7 linked regions of the Homo sapiens genome follow. The protein of the gene in region 1 purifies or fractionates together with the protein of each later gene. This does not show direct contact. Each region holds a gene or a part of one and is shown in the gene's direction. Other genes may lie near its edges. The genes, in order: NIPSNAP2, SCARB2, ABCE1, ESR2, LARS1, NTRK1 and COX4I1.

What was found.
Region 2: the proteins of NIPSNAP2 (region 1) and SCARB2 fractionate together in Homo sapiens (co-fractionation; one large-scale study listed by BioGRID). This does not show direct contact.
Region 3: the proteins of NIPSNAP2 (region 1) and ABCE1 purify together in Homo sapiens (affinity purification with mass spectrometry, with the first as the bait; one large-scale study listed by BioGRID). This does not show direct contact.
Region 4: the proteins of NIPSNAP2 (region 1) and ESR2 purify together in Homo sapiens (affinity purification with mass spectrometry; 2 studies listed by BioGRID). This does not show direct contact.
Region 5: the proteins of NIPSNAP2 (region 1) and LARS1 purify together in Homo sapiens (affinity purification with mass spectrometry; one large-scale study listed by BioGRID and IntAct). This does not show direct contact.
Region 6: the proteins of NIPSNAP2 (region 1) and NTRK1 purify together in Homo sapiens (affinity purification with mass spectrometry; 2 studies listed by BioGRID). This does not show direct contact.
Region 7: the proteins of NIPSNAP2 (region 1) and COX4I1 fractionate together in Homo sapiens (co-fractionation; one large-scale study listed by BioGRID). This does not show direct contact.

Annotation. Positions count from the first base shown.
Region 1 is NC_000007.14:55,974,585-55,978,084, forward strand, and holds part of NIPSNAP2 (protein NipSnap homolog 2), read left to right. Parts: intron 1-3,500. UniProt on the Homo sapiens protein: Protein involved in mitophagy by facilitating recruitment of the autophagy machinery required for clearance of damaged mitochondria.
Region 2 is NC_000004.12:76,168,825-76,172,324, reverse strand, and holds part of SCARB2 (lysosome membrane protein 2), read left to right. Parts: intron 1-2,339; coding exon 2,340-2,458; intron 2,459-3,500.
Region 3 is NC_000004.12:145,101,311-145,104,810, forward strand, and holds part of ABCE1 (ATP-binding cassette sub-family E member 1), read left to right. Parts: intron 1-3,075; 5' UTR 3,076-3,102; coding exon 3,103-3,205; intron 3,206-3,500. UniProt on the Homo sapiens protein: Nucleoside-triphosphatase (NTPase) involved in ribosome recycling by mediating ribosome disassembly. Able to hydrolyze ATP, GTP, UTP and CTP. Splits ribosomes into free 60S subunits and tRNA- and mRNA-bound 40S subunits.
Region 4 is NC_000014.9:64,277,372-64,280,871, reverse strand, and holds part of ESR2 (estrogen receptor beta), read left to right. Parts: intron 1-718; coding exon 719-891; intron 892-3,500.
Region 5 is NC_000005.10:146,176,151-146,179,650, reverse strand, and holds part of LARS1 (leucine--tRNA ligase, cytoplasmic), read left to right. Parts: intron 1-1,985; coding exon 1,986-2,104; intron 2,105-3,500. UniProt on the Homo sapiens protein: Aminoacyl-tRNA synthetase that catalyzes the specific attachment of leucine to its cognate tRNA (tRNA(Leu)).
Region 6 is NC_000001.11:156,859,594-156,863,664, forward strand, and holds the start of NTRK1 (high affinity nerve growth factor receptor isoform 2 precursor), read left to right. Parts: upstream 1-1,271; 5' UTR 1,272-1,341; coding exon 1,342-1,553; intron 1,554-4,071. UniProt on the Homo sapiens protein: Receptor tyrosine kinase involved in the development and the maturation of the central and peripheral nervous systems through regulation of proliferation, differentiation and survival of sympathetic and nervous neurons.
Region 7 is NC_000016.10:85,805,132-85,807,568, forward strand, and holds the end of COX4I1 (cytochrome c oxidase subunit 4 isoform 1, mitochondrial isoform 1 precursor), read left to right. Parts: coding exon of another isoform or gene 1-22; intron 23-601; coding exon 602-733; intron 734-1,324; coding exon of another isoform or gene 1,325-1,371; exon of another isoform or gene 1,372-1,606; coding exon 1,607-1,743; coding exon of another isoform or gene 1,744-1,856; 3' UTR 1,857-1,937; downstream 1,938-2,437. UniProt on the Homo sapiens protein: Component of the cytochrome c oxidase, the last enzyme in the mitochondrial electron transport chain which drives oxidative phosphorylation.

The DNA of each region.
Region 1 (3,500 bases):
ACGCCTGTAATCCCAGCACTTTGGGAGGCCGAGGCAGGCGGATCATGAGGTCAGGAGATCGAGACCATCCTGGCTAACACGGTGAAACCCCATCTCTACTAAAAATACAAAAAATTAGCCGGGTGTGGCGGCGGGCGCCTGTAGTCTCAGCTACTCAGGAGGGTGAGGCAGGAGAATGGCGTGAACCTGGGAGGCGGAGCTTGCAGTGAGCCAAGATCATGCCGCTGTACTCCAGCCTGGGCAACAGAGCGCGACTCTGTCTTAAAAAAAAAAAAAAAAAAAAGAAATACTGTTGTAGAAAATCATCTAGTGTTTCTAAAGAGATCCCCAAGAAGAGGTTCACACTGGCCCATCAGCATCTGGACTTTTATGTCCAGAAGCACTAAGATTCTGGACATTTATGCTGGCCCTTTGGAATCCCAGTACATTACTGATCTAGGAAAAGGCAGAAAAGATCTATGTGTAGGTCAGTTGGAGAGCAAAAGTAGCTGGGCATGGTGGCTCATGCTCGAAATCTCAACACTTCAGGAGGCCAAGGCAGGAGGATCGCTTGAGGCCAGGAGTTCAAGGCCAGCCTGGGCAACCTGGCAAAACCCATTCTCTATAGAAAATACAAAAATTAACCAGGCATGGTGGTGTGCATATGTTGTCCCAGCTAATCTGGAGGCTGAGGTGGGGGAATCGTTTGAGCTCTGGGGGTCAAGGCTGCAGTGAGCCGTGATCACACCAGTGCACTCCAGCCTGGGCAACAGAGTAAGAGCCTGTCTCAAAAATAAAAAGAGAACAAAAGTATAAAGGGTATGCTGTGATAGACCTGGCCAGAGGTAAGATCACCAATTATAAAAGGGATTGTGCAGAAAGAAGGGGCAGGAATTCAGAAGGCTACCCTTCTGTATGATTCCATACATACGATGTTCTAGAAAAGGCAAAACTGAGGGACAAGGAACACAGCAGTGGTTGCTAGAGATGGGGAGAGGGGTTGATTATAAAAGGATTAACTTCAAGGGGTGAAGAAGCTGTTGTGATGCTGGTTACATTACTTTAGGCATTTGTCAAAACTCAGTACTGTCTGCCAAAAAAGTACATTTTATTGTACATAGATGTGAAAAACCAAGAAGATGAGGGAAACGCTGTTTGTCATTTGATCATGGTTACATAAAGTTCAGAAGAGGGCTGAGCGCAGTGGCTCACACCTATAATCCCAGCACTTTGGGAGGCCGAGGTGGGCAGATCACTTGAGGTCAGGGGTTGAAGACCAGCCTGGCTAACATGGCAAAACCCTGTTTCTACTAAAAATACAAAAATTAGCCGTGCACGGTGGCACACCATGTAGTCCCAGCTACTCAGGAGGCTGAGGCGGGAGAATCGCTTGAACCTGGGAGGTGGAGGTTGCAGTCAGCTGAAATGGTGCCACTGCACTCCAGCCTGGCAACAGAGCGAGATTCTCTCAAAAAAGTGTGTGTGTGTGTGTGTGTGTGTGTGTGTGTAGAAATTGTTCAGATAGTTCAGAAGGTTATACAATGAAAAGAAAAAACCTTTACTCCCACCCCAGGCCCAGTCATGTTCCCCAGATGTCATCACCCTTTAACAGCTCACTCTGTATGTGTATATATAGTGCTGTTCTGTGCCGGCTTTTTTACAGAATTTATCTTGGAGATGTCAGCACATCAGTGCACATAAATCTACCTCATTCTTTTTATCGAGTGCATATTTTCTGACGGGGAGTATTTCCTAATTTACGTGACCAGTCTGCATTAATGGCTATTCAAATGGCCTATGCCAGGAGATAACTGGAAACAAGACAGCAATGAATATTTGTATGCATTCAACTTTGTGCACCTGTCTAAATATAGCTGGCCGTAGGACATAACCGCAAGTGTCATTATTGGGCTGAAGTCATACACAGTTTCCATTTTGATATGGATGATGCCACACTGCCCTCTTGGGAGGTCAACAAATTTGTATTCCTATTAGCTGGCATATGGGAGTTCAACATGCACATAGATATTTGTGAAGTAGGGCCAATTGCAGTGGCTTACACCTATAATCCCAGCACTTTGAGAGGCTGAAGTGGGAGCATTGCTTGAGGCCAGGAGTTTGAGAACAACTTGGGCAACATAGCAAGACCCCATCTCTACAAAAAATTTAAAAAAATTAACCATGCAAGATGACGTATGCCTCTAGTCCCAGCTTCTCAGGAGGCTGAGGTGGGACGATCACTTGAGCCCAGGAATTTGAGGCTACAGTGAACTACAGTGAGCTATCGCACCACCACACACCAGCCTGGGTGACAGGGCAAGACCCAGTCTCAAAAAAAGAAAGAAAAAATCCATGAGTAAAGTATAGTTTGTGACTTGAGTCAAATTTATCCTCACTTTCTGAAAGCATTCACAATAGAAATTTAATTATGAGATGAAAATTAGCAAATTATGTGTTAATAAAGTTGGTATTCTGAGGTTTGTGGGGGCAGTTAAAAAATTTTTGATTTTTAAAGTTAATTTTTACAAATCTTGATTTTTTTTTTGGCCAGGCTCGGTAGCTCCTGCCTGTAATCCTAGCACTTTGGGAGGCTGAGGCAGGTGGATTGCCTGAGCTCAGGAGTTCATGACCAGCCTGGGCAACACAGTGAAACCCCATCTCTACTAAAATACAAAAAATTAGCTGGGTGTGGTGGTGTGTGTCTGTAATCCCAGTTACCCTAGAGGGTGAGGCAGGAGAATCGCTTGAACCTGGGAGGCGGAGGTTGCAGTGAGCCCAGATCGTGCCACTGCACTCCAGCTTGGGCGATAGAGCGAGACTCCATCTAAAAAAAAATTTTTTTTTGATTTTTAAGTTACTTGAGGGGTAAATTTTTTTTAAAGAAAGAATGTATTTCATTTTCCTTGTATTTTTAAAATATTTTTATTGTGGTAAAACATATATACATAAAATTTGCCATTTAAACCATCTTAAGTGCATAATTCAGTGGCATTACTTATATTCACATTGTTGTACAATCATCACCACTATCTGTTTCCAAATCAAATAATATTTTTTAAATTGTGGCAAAATGTACGTAATGTAAAATTCACCATTTTAACCATTTTAAGCATACAGTTCAGTGGCATTAAGTAGATTCACATTTTGGGGAAACATCACTACCATTCATCTTGAGAATTTCTTCATCTTCCTAAACTGAAACTCCTTACCCCAACCTCCCCTTTCCTCACCTCCTGGCAACCTCCGTTCTGCTTTCTGTCTCTGTGGGTTTATCTACTCTAGGTATCCATGTATATTTTTTCTGTGTCAAAAATTGCTTTGAAAAACACATAGTGCAAATTGCAAAGATAAATGTGGGCTCTCTTATAGGAGTGCCACACATTTTACATTTTTCTTTGCTTCTGCTTCTTGGAGTGCATGCTGTTGTCATGGAAAGCAGGCATTCTTTGGTAGCCCAGGTTCTGGAACGGTGCCTAGAATAGCTGCTCACTGTGTTTGCCAGATTAACTGATGGATATATG
Region 2 (3,500 bases), on another chromosome or scaffold:
ACTGCACTCCAGCCTGGGCAACAGAGTGAGACCTGGTCTCAAAAAACAAAAAAATTATATATATATAAAAAATTGTTTATATATACGTATATCATATATATGTGTATATATACATATATATATACAACTGACAAAAGTATTTTTCATCTTGAAGACTAGTTTTAACAGCCACATGTATATATTTATGTATGTATATGTTAATATATTTGTTAATATATGAGTATATTAACAAATTTTATAGTTATATATAAATATGCATATATTTGCATATACTTATATTTGCTATATTTTAATATATATGTATATAGTATATATATATAGGTATACACACACACGTGCGCAAGTGTGCACACACACTCATGGTGCACACACATGCATGTATGTCCCAGGGTCCCATGTTGGATATACCAGGGCCCCAGAATCTACACTTTTAACAAGTACTCCAGCTGATTTCCATAAAGATGGCGTCTAGGTATTTGGGGACCATTGTGCAAGGGAACATGGTACCCTTTACCTGGAGATAAAGACCAAGGGTGAATGGGAACAAGTTCCTGGTTGTGATCTCCCCCATTGCCTTACTGGTAATAGTCCTGAAACAGTGTCCCTGCCCCCTCATCTGGTGTGCATCTGGCTCAAAGCAAAAATGTAGATATATTTTCTCTTGCTGTTTTTATTAAATTCTGTTTCCTTAAGAAGCTGATGCCAGAATCAACAGAAGTATTCTACTTTACACATTTAAACTTCTTGCTACAATCCTTTTCCTCTTCCCTCTTAACGTATTCCCGAATTTGGACTGAAGTGAAACTCCCCAGGATTATCCTCCAGTGTTTTGAATTCTCCAGGGAAACATTTTGGATAGCAGGATGAGTGTTCTGGAGTCAGGCAGATTGGGTTTGAGTCCTATTCTATTTGTTGGTAAATTGGCCAAAGTTTATTAAGGAGGGTTCCAGACATCAGTTTTCTCATTAATAAAATGGAGGTGGTTATAGCTTCTTGAGGTTGTGTGAGAGTTAGAAATAATATATATAAAACACTCAGGACAGTAGCCCCTATTAAGCCCTCAACAGATTTAAAAAATACATTTTCAAGGTCATTATAGGTCACAAAGAAGGAAGTCATGCCTTTGTGGAACTATTCAGCAGTAAACAGCAAAATGCATGTGCATGTGAGAGATGAGGGATGAGTTCCTTAAGCCATGGGCTGGTGAATATGTAAGCAAATTTAAATAACTTGCCGACAAGCTCCTTTCTCCAAAAATGTATTTCCCTGGCAGCAATTGTTGGGTCCCTCTCTTCTTTTCAATAGCCAGATCTAGAATAGGTTTCCTTTAGTAACTTGTTTCCCTATTTGGTTATATATATATATATATATATATATATTTAAATTTACATAAGCACTTATTTGGTTCTTAAAATGAATAGGAAAGGAAAAACCCCAGAATCTTTGTGATCTGGTTAGAGGCTGGGTGTATAGCACAACCAGGCTAACTCTTAAAAAATTATGTAGGCCAGGTGTGGTGGCTCAAGCCTGTAATCTCAGCACTTTGGGAGGCTGAGGCGGGCAGATCACTTGAGGTAAGGAGTTCAAGACCAGCCTTGCCAACATGGTGAAACGCTGTCTCTACTAAAAATACAAAAAAATTATCCGGGTGTGGTGGTGCATGCCTGTAGTCCCAGCTACTTGGGAGGCTGAGGCAGGAGAATTGCTTGAACCTGGGAGGCGGAGGCTGCAGTGAGCTGAGATTATGCCTGTCTTTGGTAAAAACAAAACAAAACAAAACAAAAAACCACCAAAAATTTTTTTTTAATTTTAAAAAGGACAAGAAATAAAAAGTCAGTCCACTTACTGATAGAGAATTGTAGTTGAAACTAGTGCTTTGAGGTACAACACCCTTCATTCACTTAGTATTCTGCCTTCATAGCCTGATGGCTAGCTGTCCCTGGGTAAATTTTGTAACTTCTATGAACCTCACTTTCTTCAAATGCAAAGTGAGGCTAATAGTTCTGACTTTACTGGGCTGTTGGGAGCATTAAATAAAATAATGTGTATGAAGCACTTATACTTTAACTTCAGTAAATATTTGTTGAAGAATAAATAATTTAGCCTGAACTTCAATATATAATGTGGAATAAAAAATTGGGGGTAAATGAGATGTCAGAAAATGAAGTATAAATCCTGAACTAGGAGGTAAAGGATGGTGTTTTAGCCTACCCAAGTTAATTTATATGTAGCTTTTTTGTTTTTCTTTAGGAACCAGGCTGTGGCCAGGAACTTTTATATTCAGCTCAGCTTAGATTTTAAAAACAGCATCATTCATTTCTGTTTTCCTTCAAATGCAGGTGCACCCATCATTATGTCTTTCCCACACTTTTACCAAGCAGATGAGAGGTTTGTTTCTGCCATAGAAGGCATGCACCCAAATCAGGAAGACCATGAGACATTTGTGGACATTAATCCTGTGAGTACATACTTCCTCCTGGTAAAAGAGCATATGTTTTATTCTGTCTATACATTGTTCACCAGTTTAGTCCTGAGCCTTCTTTAAAAATATCCTTACTTTCATATACATATTCAAGTGGGAGAAATTCAGCTCAGTGCTGATGGAGGCATTGTCTCATAGCCCTGTAATTAGAAGGCTGAATTTTGTGGATTGAATAGCAGAAATACGAGCAAACCTGCCTTTAACAAAAAGCAACAGTGAAAACTCAGTTATTGGAAACTACTGATGTACCCATATAACCTGGTCAATCTTCTGATGCTAGCCTTGGACCTCAACATATATTTATTTCTCCCCTTGGGACACAGATCGATAAGGTTAAAGATGTCCCTTTGCTTCCTCACTGCCAGGAATATTTTGGTTGAAATATGAATATGTATATTAACCTCAGTCACTTTTGGCAAACTTCTTTCTACAGGTTATTTGAGAGTTTATTATATTATTAATTGTAAAGGTATCAGATATACATAGAGGAGACATACACACGTGTGTGTGTGTGTGTGTGTGTGTATAATACACATTTACTCCTGTATTCATAGACGAGAAAAACAAAAACCATGCTAACCATGTCTTCATTTTTGGAATTTGAACATTATGGACCAATAAAAAAAAAAAACAAGAACATTCTTTTAGCACAGTATTTTATGGGTACTTCACACTCTTAGCTGCATACATTGCATTTGTATCTGAGAAACCAGTGATCTTATGCTCTGGTGAATAAAATCGTGTGTGGTTTTCTCCCTTTTCTCTTAGCCATCAGCTGATCAGTTCCCTTGGATCAGCCAAACTGTTAGCAGTGCTTGTCACCAAGGGACGAACACAGTCTTATAACCTTAGTGCAAAGATGGAGCTGCCCTAAGGATGACAAGTGCTGCAGCTGTGCCCCATGGCTACGCTAGGCGGGCCCTATACTAGGATGCCACTCTCTGGCAGTGACCACCACCCTCTTCTTAGCTCTCTGGACAACTGCCTGGAAATCCAGACCTGACAGGCTATCTTTTAG
Region 3 (3,500 bases), on another chromosome or scaffold:
CATGTGCTAGGAACAACAAAGAGCCAATGTAGCTGGAGCCATACAAGAGCTAGAGTAGTTGGAGATGAGATCAGAAAGTTAACAGAGGCTGATCAATGCCTCATTGATTATTTTCAGGACTTTGGCATTTACTCAGATTGAGAATGAAGCCATTGCAGGATTTTAAATAGAGGAGTGACATGATCTAGCTTACTCTTTAAAAGGCTTCCTATGGTTCCTGTGTTGAGAATGAACTGTTGAGGGTTAGAGTAGAAAGAGGTGAGGGTAAAAGCAAAGAGATCTGTTAGGAAGCTATTTGAGTGATGCTGGTAAGAGATGATAGTGATAGCTTACACCAAACTCATGAGATCAGATTCTGGATGTTTTATAGCTTCAGTGGGATTTGCTGTTATTAGGTGGAAAAGAAAATGACTTCAAGGATTTGGGCCTGAGCAAATGGAAGACTGGAGTTGCCATCTAACAAAATGGGCAAGACTGCTGAAATTTTGGTGAGGATATCAGGAGCTTAGTTGGGAGATTCCTCTTAAGCCTTCCAGAGATGTTAGGTGGGCAGGAAGGGTTCAAGAGAGGTATGCTGACTAAAGATAGAAATTTGGAAATTTGCAGTATATAAATGGAATTTAAACCTGTGAGACCAGAATAGAACAACTTGGGGAATGAGTATATGTGGAAAAAAATGACCAAGTCTTAGAGCACTCTGCATTTAGAAGCCTGGGAGATGAAGATGAGTGACCAGGAAAACAGTAGAAAAACCAGATTAGTGTTGTATCCTAAAACCAAGTTAAGAAAGGGTTTTTATCTAGTAGGAAAAGTGTTTATTTGTGTCAGATGCAATTGATTGGTCAGGTGAATTAAGGTCTGATAACCATTTGTTTTAGCCATGTGAAGAACAATGATGGCTCGAAAAGTTTTGATTAAATGATGGGCTCTAGAGCCTAGAATGGATTCCAGAGAGCATGTAGCAAGAAATTTGAGACATTGAGTATAAGCAACTCTTTGAAGTAGTCTTGAAGAAGGAAAAATAAAACAATGGGAGACGATGGGGTCAGATAATAGAATGCCTGAATGCTGATAAGAATGAGCCAGTGGAGAGAATAATTGATGAAGTTAAAGACAGAAGGGAGAATTGTTGGGACATTCTTATGGAATGTCTTCTAGTGTACAAATGGTCTTAGCCAGGGAAATACATACAGTGTCATTGCTGGTTGGCATAAGGGTCCATTTGAGATGATGAATTTAAAGGGAGACTAGTCAGCAGGTTTTGTGTTTTTTTTTCACCTACCATTTTCAGCTCTATGTGTGCAGGTGAAGAGTCGAATTTAACCAAGATTGTGATTTAGGGTATTTTAGCTGGGTGAGAAGGAAAATAAAAACACCAAGAGCTGAGGGACAGTGGAAATATGATAGAATCAAGAGATAATGAAAGGTTTGAAGAATGGAGGAATCAGAGTTGTTGGATTGTTGTGTAGTAGGGGGTGAACTAAAAAGATAAGAATGGTGGTTGGAGAATGGAGTATTTGAAGTTGAGGTTATAGAAGGATTGCAATTACTGGTAATGATAAGGTCTAGGATGTAACCAGAAAAAATGAATGGCTGTGGTAAGGTAGAAGACAAGCTGTTTGAGGAGAGGGGTTAAATGAGAGGACAGGAGGGTCATCTGTGAGCATATTGAAATCGAGAACTATGTCAGGAGTTGTAAAAGAGTGTGTGAAAGTTAACAGGGGCTGAAATCTTCAAAGAATGAAAGGGAGTGATCTGGTGGTCACTACTAACTAAAGCAGTTAGATAGTTGAGATGCAAAACTTTTTAGGGAGGAGGGAGAGATAATAGTCTAGGACAGCGTCGAGGAGCAAGATCTCTTATCCCCATCCAAGCCTAATGATATTGATGGGTGTGAAAAAGACTTGAGATGTCTACAAAGGGAAGCAGTCTATTAAAAAAAATAAAATAAAATCAAGATTGATTATCACAGTAAGAAAAAGACAACATGATCTCTTTCTAAATGGATAATCTTGGTTTCAGATTCATTCATTACATATTGGAATAAACTTGAGTATTAAGGCACCTTTTGGAATTTTTTACTTTAATCACCATTCTAAGGAAATTAATTTCTGAACCACTAAGCCCAATATTGTGAAAGATTTTTAAGTTAACTTTGATCTTAATGCTGTGTAGTTGATTAAATTGGAATATCAAGACTTATAAAAGCTTTAAAAGTGAGCATAGTATATACATATAGTTATTTGGTCTCCTTTTAATTTCATTGCTATTATGATTATTTGCCATTTCTGTCAGTGTCATTATAGTCAGATGTACACGACGTGAAGTAATGCTTAGTTTGGGGGAAGAGCTTGTGGGATTTCCCCCATCCTGCTTCCCCTTTTTCAGTTTTCCTGGCTATTAATAATTCTTTTTCCATTAGAGCTTTAGATTTGCTTTGTCTGGGTTGGTTGGGGTTTTTTTTTTTTTTTGAGACTGGGTCTGACTCTCATCCAGGCTGGAGTGCAGTAGTGTGATCTCAGCTCACTGTAACCTCCACCTCCTAGGCTCAGGTAATCCTCCCACCTCAGCCTCCGGAATAGCTGGGACCGCAGGCGCACACCACCACATGTCTGGGGTTCTTTTGTTTGTTTTTTCTCATGAGATTGAATTAAATATATAAATTCAGGAAGGGTTTAAATCTGTGATATTAACTATTCTTTATTATAAAAACTGAGATAGCATGTCATTTGTTCAGGTCATTTATATCATTTGGTGTTGTTTTAAAGTTTTCTTGTGTATATATCTTGTTGAGTATATTCCTAGATATTTTCTTTTTGTCGCTATTGTAAATGACATTTTTTTCTTTCCTTATATAAATCTTCTGATTAAAGTATATATGTAAAATTTGATTTTCCCAACCTTACTAGATTATAGATTATTTTACAATTTTTACATTTGTCAAAATTTATATTTTTTTTTTGCAGATAATCATTTCATCTCCATATAATGATCATTTATGTTTTCCTGTCTTTCATGTATGCAAATTAGTTCCCTTAACTAATGGCATTAAATTTGTTGATTTTTCTTTCATAGAAGAGCTGGATATTCTTTCGCCCAGTTATGGCAGACAAGTTAACGAGAATTGCTATTGTCAACCATGACAAATGTAAACCTAAGAAATGTCGACAGGAATGCAAAAAGAGTTGTCCTGTAGTTCGAATGGGTAAGCTGTTCTGTGGATCATTTAAGTATAAAAGAAAACCATGAAAGAAATCAACTGGTTTGATAATTCTTTACGGACATTAACATAAACTTTGTGTTCACCATTAGTTTCATAAAACTGTGAAGACAAGAAAAGTAGTTTGTTCTAAATTTCTTTTATTGCTTTGTGACTGAAGGATCATATTTTTTAAAGAAAGACCAAATTTTAGAATAATACATCAATATTTAAAAGTGTATTGGATGTGAACTCAAAGCAGAGTTCAGCTTACTGATCTTGAAATCTACAAAATCTTATA
Region 4 (3,500 bases), on another chromosome or scaffold:
TGTCTGGCTAATTTTTGTATTTTTAGTAGAGATAGGGTTTCACCTTGTTGGCCAAGCTGGTCTCGAACTTCTGGCCTCAGGTGATACGCCCACCTTGGCTCCCCAATGTGCTAGGATTACAGGCATGAACCATTGCGCCCAACCTGAAAGTTATTTTAAATCTAGACCTTTATCTGAAATTGCAGAGTGTGAGATGTTTGTTCTCCATTTAAATGGGAACTTCAAATGTCTGAAGGGCTGCTTAGCAATGCTGTTGGGAATGACTGATGTTTGGAAGTGGTTGAATGCCTTCACACCCATCCATGCAGCATTCGTGAACTCTAGTAACTACAGAAGACCAATGCATATCCTGCCTGTGGTTCAGACCTGTGGGTAAGATTTGATCTGGCCACTCCTTTCATTACACTTAGAGATGTAGCTCCCACCCCATGGCTATGACTGGTCTTCGGCAGTGACAAATGCTCATCAGCATCACGTGGATGGGCATAAACTCACCTACCCACTTTCAAACATTAGTCATTCCCCACAGCGTGGCTCTTTGTAGATATGATATCAGTATCAAAAGCTTTGCTGTATCAGATTTCCGGGAATATATTTACCAGGAACCCTGGAGGAAAAAGAGATTAAATTAGGCAATGTTCATGCTATTTTTTTTTCCTAGAAAGCCCTTCCTTTCCCTTTTATGCTCTGTTCAATGGATATTTTCTTTGCTCCCTAGAGAGACACTGAAAAGGAAGGTTAGTGGGAACCGTTGCGCCAGCCCTGTTACTGGTCCAGGTTCAAAGAGGGATGCTCACTTCTGCGCTGTCTGCAGCGATTACGCATCGGGATATCACTATGGAGTCTGGTCGTGTGAAGGATGTAAGGCCTTTTTTAAAAGAAGCATTCAAGGTACAAGAGAATTGTTAACTGCTTCTTTAGTTTCCTACTTTTGATTTCAAACAATTTTGCAGAGATGACTTGGCAGAAATGTCACTACTGGCCTGTTTGGCACACAAAGTATTTGATGAGCAGTTCAGAGGATCATGTGTGTTTGGAAGTGGGTTGGGTGGTGGGGTGGAATTGCAGATTTCTACCCCAGAACCCCAAGATTATACAGCCAACTCGAATGGGTCTTACCCCTCGTTCACCCACATGGGTGTTGGATAGAAGACATCGAGTTACAACCTTGTGAAGATGTCTCTTGGAAAAAATGTGCTCACAAGGAGTTGCAAAGATTGTTTCTTTCTTTTACTTAAATTTAATATATAGCATGCTTAACAGTCATGATGGTGGGCTGGCTCCTGAGGAAGAAAGAATAAACACATTTTTTGGAAATGGTCAGAAATCAGGAATTCAGCTACAGTGGACTTTGAGAATTGATCTAGACACATTTCTTCCCCTAGGCTAGGAGGGTCTCAGTTCACAATCCCCTTGTTTTCTGGGCTGTGTTTAGATTATTTCCCTAACTTTCTCTAAACGCCTTCTGGATTTTTTTTTTTAAATCAACTTGTTGATGAAAAGAATCAAACTCTGTAAAATATTTGAAGAGATTTATTCTGAGCCAAATATGAGTGACAAATGGCCTGTGACATAGCCCTCAGGAGATCTGAGAACATGTGCCCAAGGTGGTCAGGCCACAACTTGGTCTTATACATTTTAGGGAGACATAAGGCATTAATCAATGCATGTAAGATGTACATTGATTCAGCCTGAAAAGGCAGGACACCTGAAAGCAGGGGCTTCCAAGTCACAGGCAGTTCAAAGATTTTCTGATTGGCAATTGATTGAAAGAATTATTATCAGTAGGAAGCAATGATTGGGTTACAATAAGGGATTGTGGAGACCAAGGTTTTATCATGCAGATGAAGCCTCCAGGTAGCAGGCTTCAGAGAGAATAGATTGTAAATATTTCTTAGGGGTCTTAAAGGGTCTGTTCTATCAGTGATTCCAAAAGGGGAGGGAGGGTATAATGAACCATGTCTGTCTCCCTTGTTCCATCATGGCCTAAACTTATTTTTCAGGTTAACTTTGTAATGCCCTTGGCCAAGAGGAGGGACCCATTCAGATGGTTGAGGGGCCTTAGAATTTTATTTTTTGGTTTATAAACTTCAAGTTGTGCACCCCTGATTTCAAGGCTGGTCAGCTCATCTCCCTGCATGTGTCTTTGCTACACTCCTTCTCTCGTACCAGCCCTGATTTGCTGAAGTCACTTTCTTGCTTACTCTTGTTTTCTCTATTTGCCCCATAACCTGTCCCTCAACTGCTCCCTCCCAGGCAACACCCTATGTTTCCATCTGAAAGCTCCCTTCCTTTTTCTATCAAAGCCCCAATGCTTTGTTCTTTGCCAGTTAAGAAAAGCAACGTTGAGAGAATTCATAGTGTGTAAATGGCAAATAGCAATTTACTAAATTAACTCACCCATTGATAACTCTAAGAGGATGTTTTACCTTAAGCAGAGAAATACTGATAGAATCCAGGATATGGTGAGGAGTGAAATGTTGGTAGTCACCTTCCTACCTGTCCCCTGAAATTCACCCTGTATGAATGGCAGCCTCTTTGTCCTGGATTTTATAATTACTAGCTCTGCGACTTCACCTCCTAGCCTGTTTCCTCCTCTGTGAAATGGAGATACTCATAGGGATTTTCTAAAGATGAAATAAGGTTGATTATATGAAAACATATTCAGTGCTCAAATATTTTATTTGTGACAATCTTAACAGTAGATTATAAGGCCAAGTCCATTTCCTGGCTATATGATAAGAACAATATTGATTTTCTGAAATTCTGAACTGAATTCTTGATACGATGACTATTTTGTATCTTGCTGAGTTTCTAGGATTTTACCCCTTAAGAACGTTTGGACCTATTACTACTAACCATATCTTTTAAAAAGAGATCCTTCTTTTTTTTTTTTGCTTTTGGGGAAACATTGGTCTGCTTGAAACATCTTTGACCCCTGAGACTACAGCTAATAACAATTGAAAGTAAATTTCCTTTGCTTCTCTATGTTGTTTCTTCCTTCCTGCTGCATCAGACAGGAATGTCAAATTCTAAATGTGCAAAGAGGAAAGAGTTAAAGCTGTTACAGTTGTACAGTTGTAGTGCCTAAATGATCCTTTCTTTGCATGCTTCCTGTCTTTGATATAAGTGCATTACAGTAACTGAAAGTGGCCACTTATTTTTAAAATTGTCTCAAATAGGCCAGGATGGTACAGTATTGAGAAATTCCTTGCATGTAACTTTTTTTTTTTTTTTTTTTTTTTTGGAGATGGAGTCTCATTCTGTCACCCAGGCTGGAGTGCAGTGGCACAATCTCGGCTCACTGCAAGCTCTGCCTCCCAGATTCACACCATTCTCCTGCCTCAGACTCCCAAGTAGCTGGGATTACAGGAGCTGGCCACCACACCCTGCTAATTTTTTGTATTTTTAGTAGAGACAGGGTTTCGGCATGTTAGCCAGGATGGTCTCGATCTCCTGACCTTGTGATCCGCCCGCCTCGGCCTCCCAAAGTGCTGGGA
Region 5 (3,500 bases), on another chromosome or scaffold:
CTCCAGCCTGGGTGGCAGAGGGAGACCCTCTCTCTCTCACACAGACACACACACATAAATACAGTGAAATTTCATATTACCCATGACCGTAGGGTAGGAGATATGACTAGGCTTCATGAGGCCCTACATACTTTTGCCTTTGTGGGTGGGTCCTTTCCTCTGTAAAAATATTAGAAATTATATTTTACAGACCGGGCTGGGTGGCTCATGCCTGTAATCACAGCACTTTGGGAGGCTGAGACGGGTGGACCACCTGAGGTCAGGAGTTTGAGGCCAGCCTGGCCAACATGGTGAAACCTCGTCTCTACTAAAAATACAAAAATTAGCCAGGTATGGTGGCACGCACCTGTAATCCCAGCTGCTCGGGAGGCTGAGGCAGGAGAATTGCTTGAACCCCAGAGATGGAGGTTTCAGTGAGCTGAGATTGGTCTTGCTGTGTTGCCTAGGCTGGAGTGCAGTGGCTCCATCTTGGCTCACTGCAACCACCGCCTCTTGGGTTCAGGTAATTCTCCTGTCTTTGCCTCCCGAGTAGCTGAGATTATAGGCGCATGCCAACGCATCCGGCTAATTTTTGTATTTTTAGTAGAAATGGGGTTTCGCCATATTGGCCAGGCTGGTCTTGAACTCGTAGCCTCAGGTGATCCACCTGCCTCGGCCTCTCAAAGTGCTGGGATTACAGGCATGAGCCACCAAACCTGGCCAAAAAAATTGTTTTTCTTTTAAAGAGGAGGTCTTTCTATGTTGCCTAGGCTGGTCTCAAACTCCTGGCCTCAAATAATCCTCCCTCCTCAGCCTCCCAAAGTGTTGGGATTGTAGACATGAGGCACTACATCCAGCCAAGTTACTTATTAAGAAGAGGTTTTGAAGTGAGAGGGGGCAGTGGCGTTGATAGTCTAAATGAAGGTGGTTAGTAGCAGGAATGGAAAGGGATGAACAGTTGTGCAGGCTTATTATTTCTTAGAAAAGAAAATACCTTATACAATCACTGTTTTATGGAAACTTGAAAAGAGTCCAGGTATTTTTTTTTTTTTGGTGGGGGATGGAGTTTCGCTCTTGTTGCCCAGGCTGGAGTGCAATGGTGCAATCTTGGCTCACTGCAACTTCCACCTCCCAGGTTCAAGCGATTCTCCTGCCTCAGCCTCCCAAGTAGCTGGGATTACAGATGCGTGCCACCTTGCCTAGCTAATTTTTGTATTTTTAGTAGAGATGGGGTTTCACCACGTTGGCCAGGCTTGTCTCTAACTCCTGACCTCAGGTGATCCTCTCACCTCGGCCTCCCAAAGTGCTGGGATTACAGGCGTGAGCCACCGTGTCCAGCCTGTTTTATTTAAATTTCATATGAACAGTTCTTTAACAATTTTGGAGAGAAGTTCTCTATCAGTATCTTTGATATTCATGTATTTTAATTAAATAGAAACATTTGATGACAGTGTTACATTGTAGTATATAATTTTAAAAAAGCATATCAAAGCCTTTTACATATTTCAGTAATTGTTCAACCATTTCTTTGAGGTTTGAGGTACACAGGTCATGATAATCCTAATTTTTTTTTTCTGGCGGAGTCTTGCTGTGTCACCCAAGCTGGAGTGCAATGGCATGATCTCGGCTCACTGCAGCCTCCGCCTCCCTGGTTCAAGCGATTCTCCTGCCTCAGCCTCCTGAGTTGCTGAGATTACAGGTACCCGCCACCACGCCCAGCTAATTTTTGTATTTTAGTAGAGATGGGTTTCGCCCTGTTGGCCAGGCTGATCTCGAACTCCTGACCTCAAGCAATCCACCCGCCTCGGCCTCCCAAAGTGCTGGGATTACACGCATGAGCCACCGCGCCTGGCTGATAACCCTAATTTTTAATGTTCATTTAAATTTCAAGATAACCATGGAAAAATCAGTCTTTATCAGTGAGCAGCTCAGTTCTGTGAACCCAATTCTTTTTTAAAGCAAGCGTGCTGAAATACAGAGTGGATTATTCTCTTTGTGTCCAATAGGAAAGAAAAGGAACAGCCAAAGTGGACTTTTTGAAGAAGATTGAGAAAGAAATCCAACAGAAATGGGATACTGAGAGAGTGTTTGAGGTCAATGCATCTAATTTAGAGAAACAGACCAGGTGAGTAATAGTTTGTGAAGTTCTGCACATTGTATTTCTATATATATATATATATATATATATTTTTTTTTTTTTTTTTTTGAGACGGAGTCTTGCTCTGTCGCCCAGGCTGGAGTGCAGTGGCGCAATCTCGGCTCACTGCAAGCTCCGCCTCCCAGGTTCATGCCATTCTCCTGCCTCAGCCTCCCGAGCAGCTGGGACTACAGGCACCCACCACCATGCCCAGCTAATTTTTTGTATTTTTAGTAGAGATGATGTTTCACTGTGTTAGCCAGGGTGGTCTCGATCTTCTGACCTCGTGATCCACCCGCCTCGGCCTCCCAAAGTCCTGGGATTACAGGCGTGAGCCACCACGCCCGGCCCTGTGCATTGTATTTCTAAAACCGTTGGCTTTATAGTACAGAAACAGCTTGGTGGAACCCATAAGGTAGATTGTATTTATAATGCCTGAAACAGGGTGAAGGAGGTGACTTTCACTTTCTGCATATGAATTAGGATCTTTTTTCTTATGGGGTTTGTAAAGATTTTTTTTTCTAAATAAAGTTTGTTTTGTTTTGTTTTAAAGACTACAGTATTTTAAATATTTAGACAAAGAAGGATGTTTTGAGATTTTTTTCTTTGCTGACTGATAAAACGAAATTATTCTATTAGACTCATAGACGATTATTATCTCCAAAGACAGAAAATGTAAATTTTTATGTTTTTTCTTTACAAGTAAACCTAATGCTTATAGAAGTATAAATGTTGAAGATATTATTTCATAAATACTGCATTGCCTTGATACTAAAATAATACTGATTTAAAGACAAACGTAGATCATGACATGATATTTGGGAAAAACAAAAACAAAATAACTCCCCCAAACATTGCCTTAATAAATGTATGCATCAATTATAAGATATATCCCAGATTCATATATGTTGAGATGTAAGAAAATGTGCTTTTTCAGATTGAAGAAATACGGTTATAGTAACAACAATAATAGTAAGTTAACATTGAACACTTACTGTGTGCTAGCAAATGTGCTAGCAAATTTTTTTACATGTATACTCTCATTTAATCTTCTTTTTCTTTCTTTCTTTTTTTTTTTTTTTTTTTGAGACAGTCTTGCTCTGTCATCAGGCTGGAGTGCAGTGGCGCCATCTCGGCTCACTGCAACCCCCAACTCCCTGGTTAAAGCGATTCTCCTGCCTCAGCCTCCTTAGTAGCTGGGATTACAGGCATGTGCCACCACGCCCAGCTAATTTTTGTATTTTTAGTAGAGACGGGGTTTTACCATGTTGGCCAGGATGGTCTCGATTTCCTGACCTCGTGATCCGCCCACCTCAGCCTCCCAAAGTGCCGGGATTACAGGCATAAGCCACCGTGCCTAGCCTTTTTCTTTCTTTCTTTTTTT
Region 6 (4,071 bases), on another chromosome or scaffold:
CCGTCACCGCCTAGTCCCTTGGTTCTGACCAAGATCCCGAGGAAGAAGGCGATCACTGTGTAGGGCTCTGCCTCCGTCTGGTCACCTTCTTGAGCTCAGGCTGCTCGGTCGGTCTGTGTGTCCCTGTCTCGGGGACTTGGGGGGCCATCCGTGCTGGGGCCTTGGCGGAGAGAACCGTGAGCCTCTAGGAGGTCGTCCTTCCCCCGCTCCCTGGGGCCTTGCCTGTCTCCCCGCCAAGAGACACCCCTCTTCCCTTCGCTCTCCCCAGCTTGAGACGGATGGGTTAGTGCAGCCACGGAGGCTTGCGCGGTGGGAGGGGTTGGGACCAGCCTTCTGCTGCCCTGGGTGCTGGGGATCCCGGGGCTTTCCAGGTGCTCGGCCTCCAAGGTGCGCGGTCCTCAGCTCCACCCGCGGGCGGCTCCTGCGTCCGAGGAGCTAAGAGAAGATCTATTAATTTCTTCACGAATAAATCGATGCTCTTGTCAGGGAGGCGATCGATGTCAGCCCTGCCCTGCCTTGCCCTATCCTGCCCCGGGGCCGGCGCTGGCTGGCCGGGGTCAGGGACTGAAGCTGAGACCTGAGGCGTTGCTCACTGGGGGCTGCAGATCGCACCCCCAGGCACCCAGCGCGGGCGGGGAGCTCGCGCCTTTGCGCGCGGGCTTCTCGCGCCACCCTGTGGCTTCTCTTGGAGGCGCGGTCTTGGCTCTCCGGACTCCCTTCGGCCGGATTAGGCGACCCCTTCCCTTTCTCTGCCCCGTCTGTGTCTTCCTCCCCAGGTTCTGCGATTGATCCTTTGGTAGTCCTTTTCGTTTTCTTCCTAGAGTTCGGAGAATGTTCTACCTAACTTACTCCAAGTGACATGCTCACTCCCCTAGGCACGCGCGCCGCGAGGATGGAGCGCTGAGCCTGGGGCTGGCTAGGATGACCTGGACAGCAACCTTTCCTCAACGCAGTCATCTTCCCTCCTCCCCAAATGTAAAAATGCAGCTGCTTTAAGCTGAGAGAAATAACGTATCAGCTTCCCACCTCCGGCCTCAGCAGACACCTCCGAGGCGTTCTGCTGCGGCCCCTCAGCGTCTGCCGGAGCTGAGGCGGATCCTCGGGGAGAAGGCTGACGCTGGGGGCCCCTAACAGGGGAGGGGGCAGAGGGGGGGGCGTCAGAGAGTAGGAAGCGGGTGGAGAAGAGGGGCAAGGCGGGGCCGGGCGGGGGCCGCTGGCTCCGCCCTTTCCTGGCGGCTGGGTCTTTAACACCGCCCAGCGCACATGTCGGGGGAGGCCTGGCAGCTGCAGCTGGGAGCGCACAGACGGCTGCCCCGCCTGAGCGAGGCGGGCGCCGCCGCGATGCTGCGAGGCGGACGGCGCGGGCAGCTTGGCTGGCACAGCTGGGCTGCGGGGCCGGGCAGCCTGCTGGCTTGGCTGATACTGGCATCTGCGGGCGCCGCACCCTGCCCCGATGCCTGCTGCCCCCACGGCTCCTCGGGACTGCGATGCACCCGGGATGGGGCCCTGGATAGCCTCCACCACCTGCCCGGCGCAGAGAACCTGACTGAGCTGTGAGTGTCCGGCGGGCGGTGGGGGGGCGCGGGGACAGGCAGGCATTGCAGTGCCCCGAGGGCGCGGACTCGCTGCTTGTTTGCTGGTCAGGCAGGACGAGCACGGCGGAAGGCTGGCACCACGCAGCCTTCGGCGCTGCCCGGGCGTTCCTCCGCAGCCGCCGCTGCCCTAGCAAGCTTTATGGTCAGTGCCTGGATGTCCCCTAGTGTTCAGGGCAGCTGGGCCGCCGGCTTCAGGGAGATCGAAGGGGGAAATCTCCGTGGACCAGGTCTGAGAGAGCCTAGCCGTCTAGAAGGCGCTTTCTGGAGCTCAGCCAGAAGCCCCTGCTCTGTCCTACAGAGAAGGATGGTTACCAGCAGAGAAGTCCCCAGTTTGTCACCCTTACTGCCTTTTTCCTTTTCTAGGGGCAAGCCAGCCCCCGCCCACTTTCTTGTTATGAGGAGGCAACCCTAGCTTTTCTTCTGGAATTGGGGATTGAGCTGGCTGGCATTGGTGGGAGGCGGTGAGGAGCTGAGTGGTTGAGCTCTCCTCTTTCCATTTTTACCATTCCTTCCCCCAGAACCCGTTGATTTGGATCTGGGAAATGGGACCCCCTCCTGGATTTTCTCTCCCCACTCCCATCTCCCTCTCCAACCTTGTCTCTCTACCTGGGGCGGGGAGTCAGGGCCCTTGCTGAGAGACCCTCCTCCCTTTGGTACACGAAGCTGGGAGGAATCTTCAGCATTCTGCAGGACTCTGACATTCTGCAGGAATTGGTTACAAAATACTCAAGTACTTTTTAGCAGCTGGTGAAACCTATGGGAGTATGCGGTAATGACTGGCCTGGAGGTACTCAGGCATCATATGGTGATGGCTGGAAAATACTTGAATATTACATATGGCTATCATGGCCAGCAAGACATCTAGAAGAGGGGAGAACTGCTAGAAAATCCTCCTCCTGTGGCCTGGGGTTTCGAGGGTGGACAAGGAACCTTGGCCTTGTGCTGTGATGGGCTGGAAGGTATCCGAGGTGAGGATCATCACTGTCTGGAAGTTACTTGAGCAGCTTGCAGTAATTGGCACTGAGTTCCTTGGGTATCTCATGGTAATTAACGGGAAGGCACTCAATCTCTCTCTCTAATAGCTCTAGGGAGACCAGGAGTAGAGGAGATGGCCTTGTCTTGGTCTAGGCCTAGGTCTCTGCATGATGGGAGGGGGCATGAGAGACAGGTTGCCAGTCCTAGTCCAGTTCTCTCATCACCCTGGGCCTTCAGATTGGGGTCCAGACTCCTGAGTGCTCCCCATCAGGGCTCGTGTTTCCCAACTCTTTCCAAGCCCCAAGTGGGTCCAGCAGGGTAGGGATGGGAGTGGTAGGGGGAGTGGACAGGCCAGAACTGGGGACTAGCAAGCATGTAGGGTGGTGAGCTGAGATGTCCCCCTGGGTGGGGCTGCAGCCTGACATCCCCCTCCCCACTGCCTGCACAGCCCCCTCCCTCCTCACTCACCCGCAGAGCTAACGAGGAGATAATGGACTCGAATAGACAGATTGATTATGAATCCAAACGAATGAGGCAGCTTTGAGGCAGCTTTGAGCACGCTGGCCTGACAGCTCCCACACACCCTGCCAGCCCACTGCATTCTCACCCCCTCCCTGGGTCCCTACAGCTTGAAACCCTCTGGGCAGGGGCTGGGGGGTGGGTAGAATAGGGACTTGGCCTCCCTCGGAGTCAGTGGAGGTTACTTTATAGGCCTCTACTAAGTCCACAGGGAAACTTAGGACCTGATCCTGGCTGTCCTGGTGGGGCCAAGGCTGGGAAGGGAGGAAAGGAGGAAGGGAGGGGTCACTTAGGCTGGTCCTGGTTCCTATAAGTTAGGGAAAGTTAGAGGGTAGAGGGGGAGAGTTCTGAGAACCGTCAGTGAGTCAGGGGCCCCTGGCATGTGTATTGTTGGGGTGGGGGGGGCACACTAACATGTCACTACAGGGCAGCCGAGTTCTCAGGAACTCCCTGGTATGTCGGATCCAGCAGCTAGGCAGGCCCCAGGGCGTCAGCTGTCCCCTAGCCCCGAATGCCTACTCATTCTTCTTTCTTTCTTGTCTATCTCGCTTTCTGTAGCTCTCTGTCCTTATCTGTCTGTCTCCCTCCCCTTATCTGTCTTCCTTCTTGCCTGTCACTATCTCTCTGACCTCTTCCTGTCAGTTTCTCTTTCAGTGTCTCTGTTTCACTCTCTCTTTGTTTTTCTGCCCGTCTGCCCCCACCCTCCTCGTTGAGCCTTTCCATCTTTCTGTCTCTCTCTCTCTCTCTCTTGCTGTGTAAGTCAGCCAGTCTGTGCCTCTTCTCCCCTCCTCGACACTCTGACTGCCTCCTCTCATTGCTCCTCTCCTCTTTCCTGGGTCCCTCCTTGGGGTCCCTAACTGATAGCCTGTAAGACTCTTGCTTGATCTGCTGAAAAGATGGTAGGGGAGGTTTCGGTGGAGTAGGGGTTGCTGCTTGGGTGTGAAGAGGGGCCAGAGGCTATGGGGGTGCAGAGATGTTTGTG
Region 7 (2,437 bases), on another chromosome or scaffold:
GCCCAGCAGCTCTCGGAAGCGTGTGTGTGACAGAGCCTCTGCTCACTTCTGGGCCTACTGTCTAGAGGCAGTCTTGCACAGGAGGGTTGCTCTGCTGGGTTTCGGGGTCACTGTGCCAGGGCCCCAGTTTATGTGCTCACCAGTCACTTAGCTCTGCCAGCTGACAGGATCTTTTGCTAGGCCCCCTTCTCTGTGCTGAGTGGAGGTAGCCTCTCAGCATATCTGCTGGGTAAGACATAGTTAACTGTAAATTATTGAAAGAAACTCAGCAAAATGCATAGTGTTTGGTATGAAAGGGGCAGAAAAATAACAAGATTAAATAGACCCTAATACTGTAATTCAAGTAAGAAATAATTTTGCAGTTTTAATTTGCACCTGAAGCGAACTGTATGCATTTTCTTCTTTCCTTGCCCTGTCACATGCCTGCGTGGGCACGTGTGTGCACGTACGTGCGTGAACATGATGTGGCCTGGGTTGGTGTATCCTTCAGCTCTGTGTTTCCTCCTTCACAAGTGTGGTTTTGGGGAGAAGTGGTTGAATGTTGCAGAGGAGGGAGCTGCTGACCTTTGTGCCTGTAAATGGCTGTCCTCTCTGCCCCCAGTGTATCGCATTAAGTTCAAGGAGAGCTTTGCTGAGATGAACAGGGGCTCGAACGAGTGGAAGACGGTTGTGGGCGGTGCCATGTTCTTCATCGGTTTCACCGCGCTCGTTATCATGTGGCAGAAGCACTATGGTGAGTAGAGAGGGAGGAAGGCATGGGCGCCTGGACTGGGGCTCCAGCCTGCAGTGCCCATTGGTGGGCTGTCGGGGACCTCCATACCTTGAGGCTATGAGATAGGGACTGCATTCCAGAGTTCATCTCAGGATTGTTTCCAGGCCTTGGTGACCTGGAGAACTGAAGTCGTGGGAGGTTAGTTTATAAGCCAGCATCTGATTATTCATAGCCATGCTTGTTGGGTGGTGAAATACCTTAACTACTTTGTACAGCACACCACGTTTTCAGTAGCAATTTATGTGCTCACCAGTCACTTAGCGAAAGATGACTTCGTGAAGGTTCGAGCAAGGATAAGGGGACTCATTCATTGAATGACTGTCTGGACTGTTGTGAGGACTGCATCTCAACAGCCAGCATCTGGGGGTCCCGACCTGATAGTTTGTGTGTGGGCATTGCCGGGTTGCTCGCTCGTGGTAATGACTCTTCCCCGAGGTTCTTTCTGTCCAGGCAGAACAGGCATTTTTGCATTCTGAATAGGTATATTCTCGTACTTTTGGTTTGAATGTGGATGTGGGTTAATAACAGACCCGAATCTATTTGATCTTCCAGGTCACCTTGGGCTCTGTTTGTCAGATCCTGTTATCCATAGCCTTTAGAGAGGACCTTCTGCTTTTAGCTTATTTTGTTGCTAACTTTTTACAAACAAAGGGCTAATTTTAAAATGTCAGTGTTGTCAGTGGTCAGAAACCGTGTGTTTGAGCGGGTGTTGAGTGGCAGGTGGCTCTGCTGACCTGGTGGCTGGTGTGTCGGGAGGATTTAACCTGTGTGAGGGATTGGCCTAGAAACAACCTGTTGAGATAGTCTTGCCCCATAACCTGTCTCACACCGTAGTGTACGGCCCCCTCCCGCAAAGCTTTGACAAAGAGTGGGTGGCCAAGCAGACCAAGAGGATGCTGGACATGAAGGTGAACCCCATCCAGGGCTTAGCCTCCAAGTGGGACTACGAAAAGAACGAGTGGAAGAAGTGAGAGATGCTGGCCTGCGCCTGCACCTGCGCCTGGCTCTGTCACCGCCATGCAACTCCATGCCTATTTACTGGAAACCTGTTATGCCAAACAGTTGTACCACTGCTAATAAATGACCAGTTTACCTGAAACCCTTTGTGATCAGTTCTTTAATGATACCTAAATGAAAGCTAATTAAAACAATAGGTTTCTCCCAAGGGTCTGGAGTAAATATATTTTGGGTGCAAATGAAATGGCAAAAATCTAGTATCTTAAATTGTATAAGGGGACATTATATAAAAACTGAAAATATAGAATTCCTTGATGTAGGAAATTTGAGGTTTTTGGCAAGAGATCTTTATATAAGTAAAATCCCATTATCGTAGGCACACCGGCAGGAGTTACCACAACCCTTTTTTTTTGTTTTGGGAGACGGAGTCTTGCTCTTGTCACCCAGGCTGGAGTGCAGCCGCACAATCTTGGGTCACTGCCACCTCCACTTCTCGGGTTCAAGGGATTCTCCTGCCTCAGCCTCCCAAGGAGCTGGGATTACAGGTGCCTACCACCACGACCAGCTAATTTTTGTATTTTTTAGTAGAGACGGGGTATCACCATGTTGTCCAGGCTGGTCTTGAACTCCTGACCTCAGGTGATCTGCCCGCCTTGGCCTCCCAAAGTGCTGGGATAACAGGTGTGAGCCAGTGTGCCCGGCCTATGA